Linked DNA regions of Homo sapiens: region 2 is linked to region 1. A link means that fine-mapping ties the variant in region 1 to the expression of a gene that starts in the linked region. Tissue or cell type: uterus. Region 1 holds a variant in brackets; the other region holds the start of a gene. All regions are shown on one strand. Distances are from middle to middle.

Evidence for each region. PIP is the estimated chance that this variant, and not a neighbour inherited with it, causes the effect.
Region 2: it holds the start of MRE11, and the variant in region 1 is fine-mapped to the expression of MRE11 in uterus (GTEx, PIP 0.94).

The regions. Positions count from the first base shown.
Region 1 is chr11:93,553,234-93,561,497 of GRCh38, forward strand. It overlaps a transcript of SMCO4 not described here and the pseudogene RN7SL223P. Among named protein-coding and RNA genes, the nearest start is that of SMCO4, 14 kb to the left of the region's middle. The variant T/G (reference allele first, on the strand shown) is at 4,750.
Region 2 is chr11:94,489,174-94,497,177 of GRCh38, forward strand. MRE11 (MRE11 double strand break repair nuclease) reads right to left here and starts at 4,671. Exons shown (of 20, transcript NM_005591.4): 1 at 4,618-4,671; 2 at 3,609-3,733; 3 at 1,660-1,792. The coding sequence starts at 3,628. ANKRD49 (ankyrin repeat domain 49) reads left to right here and starts at 4,811. Exons shown (of 3, transcript NM_017704.3): 1 at 4,811-4,862; 2 at 7,431-7,778. The coding sequence starts at 7,521. RefSeq lists an enhancer at 5,021-5,110.

The sequences.
Region 1 (8,264 bases):
GTGTCAGGGTTCAACAGATAAGATATAATTTTTATATCTGCTGATGAGTTTATTTTCCCAGTGAGATGGTCTACAGGCAGCTTTGATCAGATTCTCAAAGGGGTCTATGGCTGAAAATGGATTAGAAACAATTGATCCCAGAGCAGGAGTTCTTAATAAGTCTGTGTATAAACTCAGATGGGCAAAAATTATATCTTTGTTTGTACTAACTTCCATTCATGGTTGCTTATTTATGAATGTTGGTAACAAACCACAGTATTATTAGCAATTCCCATGAATTTGCTACCAGTAGAAATCAGATATTTTCATATCATGTTACAGTGTTGCAGATCTCAAAACATAATTTACACCTTTCACTGCTTTAAAATTACAGTGTTAGTAGACCCAAGCTAGATCTTGTTATTCAATGTGTTAATAAAGAAGCATATATATTACTTGATCACCAGATACTTTAATATTTTAAAGCTGCATCTTAACATAACTGGTTTCCTTGGTAATCTGTATGCTTTAGTTTCTTCAAAACATTATTCTAAGTAGTCCAAGGGCTTCATCAGACTGCCAAGCCTATAATACCAAAAAGTCACTAGCCCTCTTAGGAAAATCTTGGTAGGACCAAGCCTCCTAGCCTTACCTTTATTTGCTCTACAAAGCCAGGTTCTATCTGGTAGTTCCTCTCCTTTCAATAACCTGACATCTTGGTTCCCAGCATTGCAACTTCTGAATACTTCCAAAGCAGCAGGCATTGCCTAAGTCCAGAAAAACACAAACTTATACAAACCATAGGACAAAACAAGAGCAAAAAGAGAGAGAAAGAGAGAGAGATCCAGAATAGGTGGATCCAGAGAGGCAGAAAGCAGATTGGTGGTTGCAAGGGCCTGCAGCGAGGGGGAAACAGGGAGTGACAGCTTAATGGGGGGATTGACCCCATAATGGGTACAGGATTTCCTTTTGGGGTGATGAAAATGTGTTGGAAATTGATAGAGGTGATGATGGAACAGCACTGTGATGGTACTGGATGGTAATGAATTACATATGGCAAAAAAGCTAATTTTATGTTCTACGAATTAGCATTCATTAGCTCAATAAAACAAAAACAAATAAGAAATAAATAAATAAAAGGCAACTCCATAACAAATTCACCTGGGAATTATGTAAAGTCCTACTTAGGGGAATAAAGAAAAAAATAATCCCAAAGTTTAACGGTATTCTATTTCCCTTTTTCCCCCTCAACCCACCCTCCCATCAAGTTGCTTCTGTACGCTGCAATTTGAGATCACTTACGAAATTGCTAATGTGTACTTTAGCCTACATATTAAATTCCGGTTTGCACTTATGCATATTAAAACACACCACTAAATACTCATCTGACAAGCTATATTTTAAACCCCAAACTAGGCTTTATTGTGCCTGGATGCATTTTTAATATACCCACTAAATTTCAGCCAGACTGAAGACTGGCTGGCAATAATGATTTATAAGGGAGGGTAGAGTCCCTCACTTTCTATCCCAGAGTCCGCTCCCACTTGAGGGTCTGGGGGTTGGCAGCCCCCTACTGCCTGCTGGCTCTGTGGAGCTTTTAGGAAAAGATTTCAAGCACGATCTCACGGCCTCAACCAGGATCTGAAAGATGACTGAAGGGCTTCCCATTCTGGTAATAGACCCCACCCAGGACCTCAGCATATCCCATTAGAGCTCGCCAGCCTCCAACACAGCAGGATTGGATTGGCTGTCCACCGGCCCCTCTCATATCCTCCTCCATCGTTCTCTCTCTGCCAGGCTTTTGAAGTTCCTTTTCCTGCTCACGAACCCTGCTGGCACCACATAGCCTACAGGATAGTGTCCAAGTGCCTCAGTCGGGAAAGCAAGAACTGACCTTTTTTTGAAGCCCCACACAATAGAAAGCTTTCATATCAAGCACCCCATTTAACTTCATGAAAACCACGACTAGGCTTATTATGGCCATTTAGGGATGAAGACACTAAGGCAAAAGATCATATAAAGTCACACAACTGGTCAAGCTTTCACCACATTTCTATTTCTCCTTCCTTTCCAACATTTTCTCTACCACTCACTCCTTTGTGTCAGCCAGGCAGGCCCCCTACTCACTGTCCCCTGACTGTCACACCTTGCCCACAGGGCCCCTCCACCTAAGGGCCTCCCCTTTCTGCATTCCAAATCCCACCCATTCCTCAAGGTTTGGCTCAAGTCTCCCCTTCTCCAAAAAGCTTTCTTAGACCCCAGTTCTCTCCCCATCCTCTGAATTTCCACTTATTACGCCACTACTCCTTGAACATATCCAGGTATTGCCTGGTGTGGAGTGTGTGTCTGGCCTCCTCCAGTAAAAACTAAACTCCCTGAGGACAGGAATTGTGTCTTATTCCTTTTGTATTTGCTACAAGTACCCTGTAGGATTGAGAGATCAAAACCGCTTGATTCTCTCAATCAGCAAGAGATTGATTTTTTTCAGGCCAAAGCATTGATCCTTTTTCCCAGTTTCTGTACTTCTCCCCTGTCTCCTGCCACATTCCCTACACAAGTCTCACGGGGCTCCCAGTCATCCTCTCCAGGCCGCCCTGCACAAGAGAGCCCCGCCTTGCACAGGGCTCCTTCCCTGCTGCATCATCTCCCCTAGATGCAGCCTGCTTCCTTTCCAGCTGGAGGATGAAGAAGGTTCTTTTTTCCTTTTACATGTCTAATGACATTGTTTTTTTCAGACAGGGACTTTGGGAAAAGTCATGGCAATGAAGTATGGAGCTTATTCAGAGAATGAGCAGGTTGTGTCCTATCTCCAGGTGTGTGACAGCTGCCAAGAGGGTAGTATGTGGACTGTTTTGGCAGGAGAAGGGGGTTCAGTGGTATTAAGCGCTCACAGGAAAGGACAGGGGCTTTGGGATGGGGGACACAGATGAAAAGCACTGTTGCCTGCATCATGTAATTTGACAGATACTGTAAGACTCCAGAGGTTCCCAACCATGTCCCTTTGAACTTATAATGTTTTCTTCTTTCCTTCTGTGTTCAAAATTCCTCACATTTTAGTTTTTCTCTGTTTTAGATGATGTGGTTAGCTAATATTTTGCAACAAAATTTATGTTTTCTTCTCTTTTTTTCTACCACGTCTTCTCCCACAACTTCCAAAAGTGCCTTATTTTTTCAGGGATGTGGCAGGGAAGAAATCAGGGATTAATCAGTAATATCTCTAGGACTTTGTTTTCCAAAGTCCTCTATCTTTTGAAGACCTAAGAGGGTTCACGAAGGAGGTTAAAGAAAGAGGCAATTCATAGAGTAACTTGAGCATTTGAATCAAGGCATTGGGAATAAGAAAGGATCCTCCCAAGACCATACAGCCAACCCCAGGCCAAGGCAGAAAAGAAAGAGGGTGTATGATTCCAAAGAGGAATAGTTGCAAGCTCAGATGTTCAAATGCCTTCAAAGAATCAGAAGGTATTATGAACAAATAAATGAGTAAAGCTGGTAAAGAGACAAGCGGGAGTGGTAAGGATTAAGTCTACCTGGGGTTTTATGTCCTAAGTATATAATTTTGTTTAAAAAATGTATACTATGCTGGTGAAAAAAACACATCTTGGGCTTCATTCCACCCACTGGCAATCTCTGAATCTAGCTAGTTGTGATAGCCTTGTAAAAGATTTTTGTGCCTCAAGCATGAAATAAAATCTGCAGAGCCAGCCACAGTGCTGTGCACCTGTAGACTAAGCTACTCCAGAGGTGGGGCAGGAGGATTGCTTGAGCCCAGGAGATCTGTGCTGTAGTGCACTATGCCAATGGGATGTCTGCACTAAATGCAACATCAATATGGTGACCTCCCAGGAGCAGAGGACCAGCAGGATGCCTATGGAGGGGTGATCCAGCCCGGGTCAGAAACAGAGCAGGACAAAACTTCCATGCTGATCAGCAGTGGGATCACATCTGTGAATAGCCACTGCCAGTCTGGACAACATAGAAAGACCCTATCTCTAAAAAAATAAATAAATAAATAAATAAATAAATAAATAAATAAATAAATGATACAGAGAGGCAGTAGTTCTAATACAGCCCTGTAGACAGCAGAAAACTGTAAACCAATGACCTGGTAACAAGGGAGACATCTCCCCACATCAGATGCCTGGGGAATGTGAATGACCATGGAACTGTGATCTAAATTCTGGGCTTGGAGGGGGCAGAGAAAGTCCAAGAATGGCTTAGGTTAAGTAGCCCTTCCCCAGCTACAAGCCCAGTGGGATGGGAAAAATTAGGTTAATTTATAAAAATATTTTAAAGGTACAATATTTGTGTATAAAGTTGAAATTCCTATAACTACAAACATTGAAGGATATGTTTGGGTTAATTCAATTCTCCATACATCTACTCTGCACTGCCTATATATCTCTGCTGTGTGTATATGTGTCTCTTACATAGATATTGAATTGAGTTGTACTGTAATGGATCTGTCCCATTTGAGTCTTGGAATAAAATAAAGCCACATCCTTGTGTTCAGAAGATGGAGTCACATTTAGAGTAATGGACACTTCTGGTGTTGGTGGTCCTGAGAAACAGTGGAACTTGGAAGAAGTGAGGGATTAGAAGACAGGACTTAGACCGGGGTAAGGAAAGAATGTCTTCCTTTCTCTGATATGGCTCTCTTGAGCTCAAGCTCCCACAAGTTTAGCAAGGCTTGAATGTCCTACCTGGTAGGGGGGATGAAAAATGACTCTTGCCATTTGAAGCTGGATAGGGAGGCAGATCTGGAGGGGC[T/G]CCCCAAGGATGGGCAGGTGCAGGTGATTAGAACAACCATTTATTCACCCAAGAGTTTCATGAATCATTCTATGCTATTAGCACAAAGCTTTAACTTAAGCACAGCTGTTCTGAAAGATACTAAAAGAAGAGAATTGGCCCATCCTTAGGGTAGAAAGGTAAGGACTTTTATGCCACCTAAGGTCATGACAGCAGTGGAAGCAGCAATCGAAGACATTCCCTAGAAGAAAGTGACGTTGGAGGAACAAGTGTTAGGCCTTTACAGGGATCCTTTCACAATTGCCCACCTTGAGGGATCACAGAGTGTTATTTTATTAAGCCAGTTGGTGAGTTCCTTGGTCAGACACAGCTGAATTCTGAGGGATGACTAAGACAGAGCCTCTGCCCTCTAGAAAAAGTGGACACATTTTTATGGTGGGGGAGCTTAAGTATGATATGTCTTAAAAAAAATTTAGAGTGTTTCTCTAAAGAAACACTGGATGAATAGAATATTAGGGACAAAGGTGTAGCTGGGAGTGTGTTCCAAGTGGAGTAGACAGCAGGAACCACGGCATAGACATGGGGAGCCCCTTTTGATCAGGAGAGATGGAGCTACACCCTCTGGCTGTATCATAGAGACATGAAAAGAGTGAAGCCTGGAGAAACAGCTGACATCACAACAGGCAAAGCCTCAGTTGCAAGGGAAGACATTTGCTCTTAATCCGAAGACAAAAAAAAAAAAGACTATGCACTTTGAGACTTCTTAGTTACAAACAACCATTCCAGGGAGTTTAAATAGAAAATAAATTAATTAAAAGACATTACAGACGTGTACTTGTACAAAGAATAAATTCTGCAGACCCAATGTACAGCACAGTGACTATAGTTAATAATAATGTACTGTGTACTTGCAATTTGCTAAGAGAGTAGATCTTAAGTAATCTGATCACCAAAAAAAGGTAATTATGTGATGTGAGAGATGGGTTAACTAACCTGATTGCAGTAATCATGTCACAATGTATACATATATCAAAACATCATGTTGTATATCTAGAATATATACTATTGTTATTTGTCAATTATACCTCAACAAAGCTGAAAAATTGGGGGTAATTTGAGTAAAAATATTGAGATACTGGGTAATTTACAGGAACTCTGGGAGGGCAAAGAACAAAACTTGAAAACCAAGCAGTTAATCCACCCTCTGTGCTAATTCCATGGAGGCCCACATTTACTACCACCAGGCACTAGACGCAAGACCTCATCTCTACTTCCAGAAAATGGATCCCACTCCATGTGGCTTCCTGGTGGTGCTCTCCTCTGAACCTAAGTCTACCGAGAGCAGTCTATGGGCAGAACAAGGGTCCTGGGCCTGTGCTCCAGCTGCAAGGGATGCTGGGTAAGAGTTTCTAGCATCTGCCTTGGGAAGGCAGGACTCCTAATTGCACATTTCCCTAAATGTAAAAAGGCTTTCAGAAGATGCTGAGCAGCAGTAAAGCATAGAAAATGTCACTACAATTGCCAGTAAAGTTTTTCGAGAAGGAGAGTAAACATAATCTAAGCACATGTTAGGAAGATTAATTAGAGGTTGGATGGGTAATGCCCACATGTTTTCTGGGAAGACTGACCCAACTGGAGAAGGGCAAGGAAGTCCTGAATGAGTAGCCTTCATTCTACTTCTGCAGAGGACTAATTGTCACTCTGTGGACAGTTTGACAGGTCCAGGGAGTCAGAATGGCAGGACAGATAAGTCAGGAGTAGGGTAGGATAGTAAGAAAGCATCTACAGGAGGAAAAGACTGAAGGTGAGTGGGGAAGTGGACATGAACGTGTTGACAAAGGTCAGCCTGACCAGCTCCCTGAGTTGGGGCAAGCCCAGGTGAGGCCCAGCACCAGGCCATGGAAATCCAGCCACTACAATGCCAAGTGAAAGGTGAGAGTTTAGAGTTTAGACTGGTATTGGCAGAGCCACATGAGAGATGAAGGAAGAGCAGCCAGGAGCTGCGAGTGGGCAGGAAGTGGGGATGAGTGGCGTCCACTGCAGGTTCTCCCTGCAGGACAGAGCTCCAAGCCAGAAGGGAAAGGAAGCAGAGGAGTGCTCTGAAAAAGCAGCAGCCCTGCAGCCGAGGGACCGAGGGGCTGAACGGTTTCTCCACTGAGAGATCCAGTTCTCAGGTAGGAACTGAGAATCAGAAACAAGGGAGAGGCACATCCTGTTTTACGAGAAAAATCAAGGTCTTCAAAGATAACTGTAATAGGTTTCCATTTGTCTGTTTTTATTGTGGTAAAATATGTGTAACATAAAACTTACCGTTTTAACCAATATAAAGTGTACAATTCAGTGGCATTAAGTACACTCACAGTGCTATGCAGCTATCACCACTATCCAGGTCCAGAACATTTTCACCACCGCAAATGCAAACTCCACCCTCATCAAGCAGTTGCTCTCCATTCCCCACTCCCCACCAGTCCCTGGCAACCACTCATCTGCTCACTGTTTCTATGGATTTGCCTATCCTGGATATTTTATATAAATAGAATCATGTAATATGTGACCTTTTGTGTCTGGTGTCTTTCTCATGGCATGTTTCTGAGGTTTATCCATGTGATAGCATATAATGGTCAATTTTATGTGCCAATTTGACTGGGCCATAGAGTGCCAGGTATTTGGTTAAACGTTATTCTGGGTGTGTCTGTGAGGGTGTCTCTGGATGAAATTAACATCTGAATTGATGGCCTGAGAAAGGAGGTTGCCCTTCCCAGAGTGGGTGGGCCCCATGCAATCAATTAAAGGCTTGAATAGAACAAAAAGGCTGTGTAAGAAAGGATTTGTTCTCTCTCTATATGAATGTCTTCCAGTGAGACATTGGTCTTCTGCCTTTGGACTTGGACTCAGAATAGACCTTACACCATTGACTCTCCTGGTTCTCAGGCCTTTGGATTAGGACTGAAACTATACCATAGACTTTCCTGGTTCTCCAGCTTGTCAACCAAAGATCTTGGGACTTCTCAGCCTCCATAATTGCATGAGTCAATTCTTTTTTTTTTTTTTTTTCTTGAGACAGGATCTGGCTCTGTTGCCCAGGCTGGAGTGCAGTGGCACAATCTTGGCTCACTGCAACCTCTGCCTTCCGGGTTCAAGCGATTCTCCTGCCTCAGCCTTCTGAGTAGCTGGGATTACAGGTGCCCGCCACCATGCCTGGCTAATTTTTGTATTTTTTTTTGTAGAGACGAGGTTTCACCATATTGGCCAGGCTGGTGTCAAACTCCTGACCTCAAGTGATCCACCCACCTCGGCCTCCCAAAGTGCTGGGATTACAGGGATGAGCCACCACGCCCAGCCTCCAGTTCTTTATGATAAATCTCTCTGTGTGTGTGTGTGTGTGTGTGTGTGTGTGTGTGTGTGTGTGTGTATACATATATACATACACTCATACATATATCCTATTGGTTCTTTTTTTTTGAGAATCCTCACTAATACATAGCATGTATCATTACTTTATTTCTTTAATGGCTGCATAATATTCCATTGTATGG
Region 2 (8,004 bases), 940 kb after region 1:
GTGATAAAACAGTGCTTGGAAGTATCAGGGAAGACGTCTCCAAAAAGGTAAGACTTGAACTCTCAGAAGTCGGCCCCACCAAGATCAATGTGCTCCAAGCAGAAAGAACTAGATGTGCAAGGGCCTCAGAGTAGAACATGCCGGTGTGGATGTAGCACTGTAAATCAGGCAGAGAGTAGTAGGAGATGAAGTTTCATGGCAGGGGTCAAGATCAAGTCGAACCTTGTAGTTTGAATTTTATACTAGATTCAATGGAAGGACACTTGGAAAATTTTAGGCAACAGAGTGCCATGATCTGATTTATTATTTTAAAAGTTCACTTTGGCTGCTATGCTGAGTAGATGTAGCAGAAAAGAATAGAAGCAGAAAGATGGAAGGGGACCTCCTGCAGGCCATGTGAAATGTGATCGTTTTGGACTAAGTTTATTAGTGTGAAAAGAGTAGTAGAGAGGAACCATATATATTTGGGAGGAAGAACTAAGGACCTAGCAGATAAACTTAAGAGAACTCTCCAGAAAAGTCAAGGCTGGCGGTGTTAATTTGCAAGTCAATTTTTACATTTATTCTCCAACTCTCTCCTGGGCTGGCGTGTTAACTGCCTGCTGAAATTTTTCCCTGAATGTCCCATTGCAGTCTCCAACTCTAAGTTTGTCGAAATCAAACAAAGAATTTGTCACCTTCCCACATGAAGCAGTACCTCTTCCTTATCTACCTATTTCTATTTTTGGTACAACTATTCACCCAAACTCCACACACTTCAGAGTCACTGTCATCCCTTTGCCCTCATCCCCACCCCGCTACAACTAACCAAAGTACACAAATCCTCTTTTTGCAGTATCCCTTGCATTCATTTCCTCTTTTCCATCCCTAAGGTCAATACTTCAAAAAAAGCCTCTAACTGGTCTCCAATTCATGGTATTATACTCCGCTGCCAAAAGACTTTCTCTTGAACTGGATACAAATTTCTCAATCTGATATTTGAAGTCCTCATTAATGCAGCTCAAATCCTTCCTTCTAGTCTCTCAGCATGCTTGCTAACTATGACCTGCTGGTGAGCCAAATTGACTACAGGGCCCCTAACATACCTTATACTGTCTCACGGGTTTCCTCACTCCTGCTTCACATGGATGTACATTCTCTATGCTCCCCACTGGCCAAAAGTCTACCCTTCCTCCAAAGCCCAAGTTAAACACAACCTTCTTCATTAAACTCATCTTGCTATAATCTAAACGTGATTTTTTCTGCCTCTAAACTCAAAGGAAATGTTATTTAGAATTTTCTTAGGGCTCCTATCACATACAACCTTGCATCTGTGGATTGTGGATATTTGTCTTTCACACCAGTTTTCTTCTACGTTATCTGAAAGCAGAAGCTTTGACAGTCACCTTACATTTCGAATAGACACTGCCACAGGATCCTGCATTCAGTAAACACCCCAAAAACATTTGTAAATTTTAACAGACTATTTACAAAAGTAGCTCCTACTTGAATTTAAGACACAAAGCATACAAAATCAGCTTTGAGCTTTCAGTATATTGATATTCAAGCAGGCAAGGTAAGCACCTGAGCTTATAAAACAAATCTCTAACTTTAGAAGGAAAAATAACTTGTTAACCAAGGGAATATGGTAGATAGTGCACAAATACAAACCACACTCACTTCATTTTCCTGGGCAAGTCTTAAAATTTCATCGAGTGTTACAAACGTATCATTTCCTCTGACTGCATCTTTCTCCATAAATCCAAGATGAATATCTGTTGCAACTAATATTTTAAATGTGTTTTCATCATCACTATATTAAGAAAGAAGAAACATTTCAATATATTAATAATTCATTAAAGGATATTCAAACAAATTGAGACAAACTTATAAAATAAATAATAACAGTTATAGAGTAAAATCATTTTTTTTAGCCTTAGAGTTCATCTGAAAATCTGAAGTATTCAACGTTATCATTAACATTACAGTTTTCCTAACCACTAGTTCAATACAGAACAAATGTACATAAATCTTTACAAGGTTCTATAACTGCTTCAAAAATTTATAACCTTGTTATAACCAGTTTTACAAACTCATGTAACCCAGGCCCAAAAGTTTGCTTGTTTTCCTCAGATAAATAAACTTGTTATTTATCTGACTTCGTACTCTTCCAGGAAAATCGAAGTTAATTTAAAAAGCCTTCCTCTAAGTTTATGAGTCAATTTTATACTAATATGCAATAATTTACATTCAGGGCCTTGAAGACACTTGCATGACTCTACTCTCTACAGAGTTAGATTTCATTAATAAAGTTGGCCAACACAGAATTGTTTCAATTTGAATTTGGTAATATTCAAAGGTACTTTAATGTGAAGTAGCAATGTAATAGTTATTAATACTCTTACACTAAATTTAATTGTATGAAATACTTTTATTTTTATGATCTCATCTCAACCCTCACAGATAAAGAGTCAGGCATTATTATCTCTGACAAATGAGAAGGCTAAACCCAGAGAAATTAACTGCTTTATCACATAACTAGTGACAGAAACAGGACTAAAACCCATGATGAAAACTCAGGCTATTTTCAATAAACCACAATGAATTTTTAAAAAATCTCTGTATATATCTCCAAAATTCAAATCTTTACAAACAAAAGATATTTCCACAAACGATTTCTCTTCAAAAACTTCAAAAATGATATGCACACAGTTCTCACTGATATATCCAAGAAGGTAGGTCAGATACTTTTCAAATCATAATACTACATGTTTCTGTAGCAATTTATGAAGTATTTTCTCATGAATTCTCTCATTTAAGCCTCAAAATTAATCTGAAAAAGGTATAATTATTCCAATTATACCAATGGCAAAATTGAGGCAAGGCTCAGAGAACTGCTGACTTGCCCAAGGTCACACAGCTAGTAGGGTCCAAGGACTTGAAACTAGGGTAAAAGACTCCAAGTCTAAAGTCTTTCCCACATAACTTTTTTTTTTTACGATCTCGGCTCACTGCAACCTCCGCCTCTCGGGTTCAAATGATACTCCTGCCTCAGCCTCCTGAGTAGCTGGGATTACAGGCATGCGCCACCACGCCTGGCTAATTTTGTATTTTTAGTAGAGACGGGGTTTCACCATGTTGGTCAGGCTGGTCTCCAAATCCTGACCTCAGATGATCCCGCTAGCCTCGGCCTCCCAAAGTGCACATAACTTTTACAGTCCTTTTATTTATTCCCATTCCATTCAAATTCATTTCCAGCTTATTTAATACTAGAGGAATTTACTCTAAAAATCTTAAACAGAACTGCATTGACTAATAAGAATTTGTCAGGAAAATTCAAGAATATTTATCACTTCAATAATTTAAGATGAAGCCTAAGAACATAAACAATACTATATCAATATATCAAATTACTGCAAGACTCCAATCTATAGCTGCATATTAGCTTCCAGTTAACAAACAGATAAATATTTAAAACATTCCAAATACCCTTTTTGATGACTAATATTTCTGTTCATAAACAGGTTCCTTATTTACTGCTTATTAAATAAGTTTTCTTTTACTGTGATCACAGTTGACGAGCTTTAGAAACCCCAAATAACAAGGGATTCCAGAAGTCAGGTGCTTACAGTGCATCTGCAGTACTCATTTTTATGGTCAGTCAAGCTCCTCTGGGACCAGGTTCTTCTCCAAGAACCCCTGGGTACTGTACTCAAATGTCAGAAAATGCACTCGATTCCAAATTCTAGAAATTCTAAAAACAAAATTACATCATAAAACACATTTTTTAAAAGCCTGCACGTATTTAACCAACATGATTTACGCTGCACAAGGTACAGACGTCTTAATTAGACTGGCAAATTTAGAAGTCTCATTTTCATCTAAGCACCCACTATACTTTTTTTTAATGAACTGAGCATAGAAAATAATATATCTCCAGTGTACATCCTGTTTCCTAGTTTCACCAAGATGATTAAACTCCTATTTTCCTTTCCCGTGCTCTTATGGGAAATTAATGTATGCTAAATAAATGGGCAGAAAGGGTCACATACGGTTCTGGTTCAACACACAAACAACTCTAGATGTGCAGATATTTTTAAGTTGCACGCATAGGTTACTCTGGAGAACAGAGGCAATCCTGTATTTCCTATTCAAACCCCACGATTTTTTTTAAAGGACCTGGCTAGTTTGGAAAAGGGAACGGGCCCGCGTTTAAAGCGAGTGTAAATAAACAAACACGTGGTCTGCGGAGGAACACCTTTAAGCACCAGCAGGATGACTGAAAATAGCCAGGTTTGGGGAAGAGTGGCTGCCACCGCGAGACAACCCCCACCACATCTGGAGCTCCAGATTCCGTCGGGATTCCAAGCCTCAACACGCCCTCACCGCAGGGAACCTCGGAATCAGAACGCTGAGCCCGCCAGGACCCCTCCCCTGCCCACTCGGCCCGCTCTTCCCGAGGTTCCAGTTAACTCTGGGCTTCCGCCTGGGAACCTGCAGAAACAGGAGACGAATGCGATTCCTAAATTACCCCACTGCTGGACTCTTCGAAGCCCCACAATCGCGACCCAAGGCTGTCTTCTTTTCGGGAAGAAAGGGCAGGATCCGTGAAAAGAAAACAACACGGTCTGAACTTGCCTCTGAGAACCCGCAGGGCCGTAAACCTGAATTCCGCGGGAGAGAACGGCGTCCGTTTCTCTCGCGACACTTCATGGATAACGTAGATGCTTCAAGTCCAGTTCGGCTCTCATTGGCTACCGCACGCAGTGAGGGGGCGGGGAAAGTAGCGGCGAGGCCCCGCCCTCACGCAGGAGCCAATCCTGAGCAGGCTAGGAGACGAACCCGGAAGTGAGATGCAAGGCGGCGATTTTCCCTTCTGTCAGGTGGGTTGTTATTCCCTGTCCCGGACCTCGCTTTTTGATGGACCGGCGCCATCTAAGAACTCCTGAGCCCGTGGGGGTGGGTAGCCTGTGGACACAGGCCGAGCCCTGCAGGTCAGGCCGCTTCGTGGTCCCCAGGTAGGACCGAAGCCGCTTCTCCGCTCTTGGCTGTTTGGAAGGCCGCAGGCGGAGCTCACGGGCCTGTGAGCTCCCGGCTGGTGGCAGAGTGCCGGAGCTGGATCCCCTCTCCCTCCCTCCCAGTCGCCAGACCCTCTACAGGTGTCGCCCCTAGGTCCTTGAGTTCAGCACATCTGCACTGCTTTGTGCTGAGAGCAGTAAGATGTATAGTGCAGCGAAAAATAATGTAGAACTTTTGAATTAGAACGTCTGCCCTTTCAGTTCCATTGAAGGGTCCTTGATCTAGGGCAAGTTGTTTTAATCTATCTGAACCTCCTTCACCAGTAAGGTTTATAGCCCCGCCTATCACTGAGTTGTTTGTAAGGAGTTGACATAGTTCGGATCTCTCTCAAAATAGGATATGCCCTTTAAGTTAGGAAACATACCCTGACATTCCTGATGGAATATCAGGAATATCATCATCAAGTCATCAGTTTTGTTTCTTAACTGTAAGTCGGGTAGATGCGCCTAGGCTTGGCTTTTTAAACTAAATATACCAGTAAAATTTTGTACATAATTTTTTGTATCTGGATCTGTAAACTCAAAATTTATATAAAGGGAGTTTTTATTGAAAGGAAAAGCATGTTGGGGGAGAGGGTAAGATCTGTGGTATAAGGTTACTATATTTGATATAATTACAAGTGAACTTTTATTTATTAGCATCTGTTAAGTGTTTAATGAATTGATGTATGGTCATTTTTGTGTTGCAAGGTTCAGGAATTAGTTTGAGAATCAAAGAAAAAGTGGAAGCTCCAGGAGAATTAATAAAACACAGAGCAATTCTGATTGGATATCTCTGATTCCAAGGGTGTCTCTGATTGGGTGACTGAAAAGCCGGATTGGCCTTAGGAATACTTTAGTAAAATTCTTACATTTTACAATAAAGTAACAGGACCAGAAAAGTTACTGGACATGAGTAATACATTTAAACTTGAGTTTAGTGCTATTGCCACTAGTAATAAAGTTTAATACCACATTAAGATTGTATACTGTTAAACTTGTGAGATTAGGTATCAAGAAATCAGTATCTTGGGGTTATGCCTAACTCTGGAACTTCTCAGAATCCATTCCAGGCAAAATCAAGTGACAAGACTTTAATTAAATGTAATGCTACACATACTTCTTAATGCCTTCTATAGACAAGTAGGAGATAAATATAAGTTAAATGTGGTCCTTATCTTTCAGCTTATAATCTTTTAAGGGGCTAAAACAAGAACAAAGTTAGAGGTGAAATGTAGCACCAAAAAAAGTAGAAAGCAGAAAGCGATCTAAATGAGAGGATCAAGAAAGAATGAAAGAGATAACATCAGAGAAGAGCCTTGAAAGACTGATTATATTTCAACAAATAGAGTTGAGAGGCTGGGAATTCGTATTTGTAAATTATCTATTGGTTATTCTCCTTTTCTTTAATTGATTAAGGTTTATATGTTGTGTAACCCTTTAAGCTGATATTGGTTTAAAAATTAATATGGCAGCTTAGCAGAATAAACATCAGTTCCTTCAGGAAGCCTTCTTTAATCCCTTAGGACTAGGGGAATTATGAACCTCCTGTATACTCATGGTTTCTAGACAAGGTCTTGTAGTAGTACTTATCATGTTGTCTTTGCCAGACACATGATGTCTTTGCCAGTCACCTACACTAGAGTAAGCTTCCTGAGGTGAAGACATGGATCTTGCTCATTATTGAATCCCAGTACCCAGAAGTTGGCACATACCAGACATTCTATTCATATTAGTTGAATGAAGGAATGAATGACAGCCAAAATTCAGTTGAAAACAAGGACCCAACTAAGAACTATAGTTGCCTATCAATAAACAGGACTACTTTTTAAAGCAGTGAATTTTCCTAGGCCTGAAATTATCAAAGTAGAAATAGGATAATTAGTGTAGATGCTGTGATAAAGATATATGTACCGATGACAGATTGGAACAGATGTCCTTTTGGGGGCTATTCCATCTTCAAGAATCCCTGATTCTTCGAAATAGTATTTTTAGGAATTAGAAGTTTTTATTTCTGCTCTATATTATCTGTGTGTCTAGTTTATAAAAATCTTGAATGCACCTGTCTTCATTGTATTAGTTATACTTCAAAACCTTTAAGCATTCATCACTGTTAGCATAACACCATCATACCTAAACCAGTAGATTAAAAATAATAGTTATAATAATATAATTGACTTAGAAGAAAACAACAAAAGTAAGAAGCATTAGACCACTATTAGATCATAGTTTGTTGTTTTCTGTCAGCATCAGTATTTAGTGTATGTAAGGGATATCATGAGAAAAACAAGAGTTTAGACAGGGTTTAATTGTATATGTTTGCAAGACTTATCTATGCAGTTGATAAAGCCTGAATTATTGTTTTACTAATAACTTTTGTATTTGTGTTTTCAGATCTTGATGAACAAAGCAGTCATAATTCATCTCTAGAAAGATTTATATCCTGGCATTTGAAATGCTTTTTATTTAGAATAGTAGTAAAAAATGGAAAAAGAAAAAGGAAATGATGATGGAATACCAGACCAAGAGAATTCCTTGGATTTTTCTGAACACTTTAACCAACTTGAATTGTTGGAAACACATGGACACCTTATTCCTACTGGTACTCAAAGTCTTTGGGTAGGCAATTCTGATGAAGATGAGGAGCAAGATGACAAAAATGAAGAGTGGTATCGATTGCAAGAAAAAAAAATGGAAAAAGACCCAAGCAGATTGCTTCTTTGGGCTGCTGAAAAAAATCGGGTAAAAAAAAAAATTACAGAGGGAAGTGTGACAGTAGGAAAAGCACTGGGTTCAAGCCAGAAGACCTGCCTTTACTGTTATGGCCATCATACCTATCTCTTGATTGTGAGGACCAAATGAGACAATGTACATGAAAGCACATATTAAGCTGCAAAGTGTCATGCTAGGTATTATTTGGGGGTTTAAGGATAATTATCTATAAAGATAGCAAGCAATCATCTATATT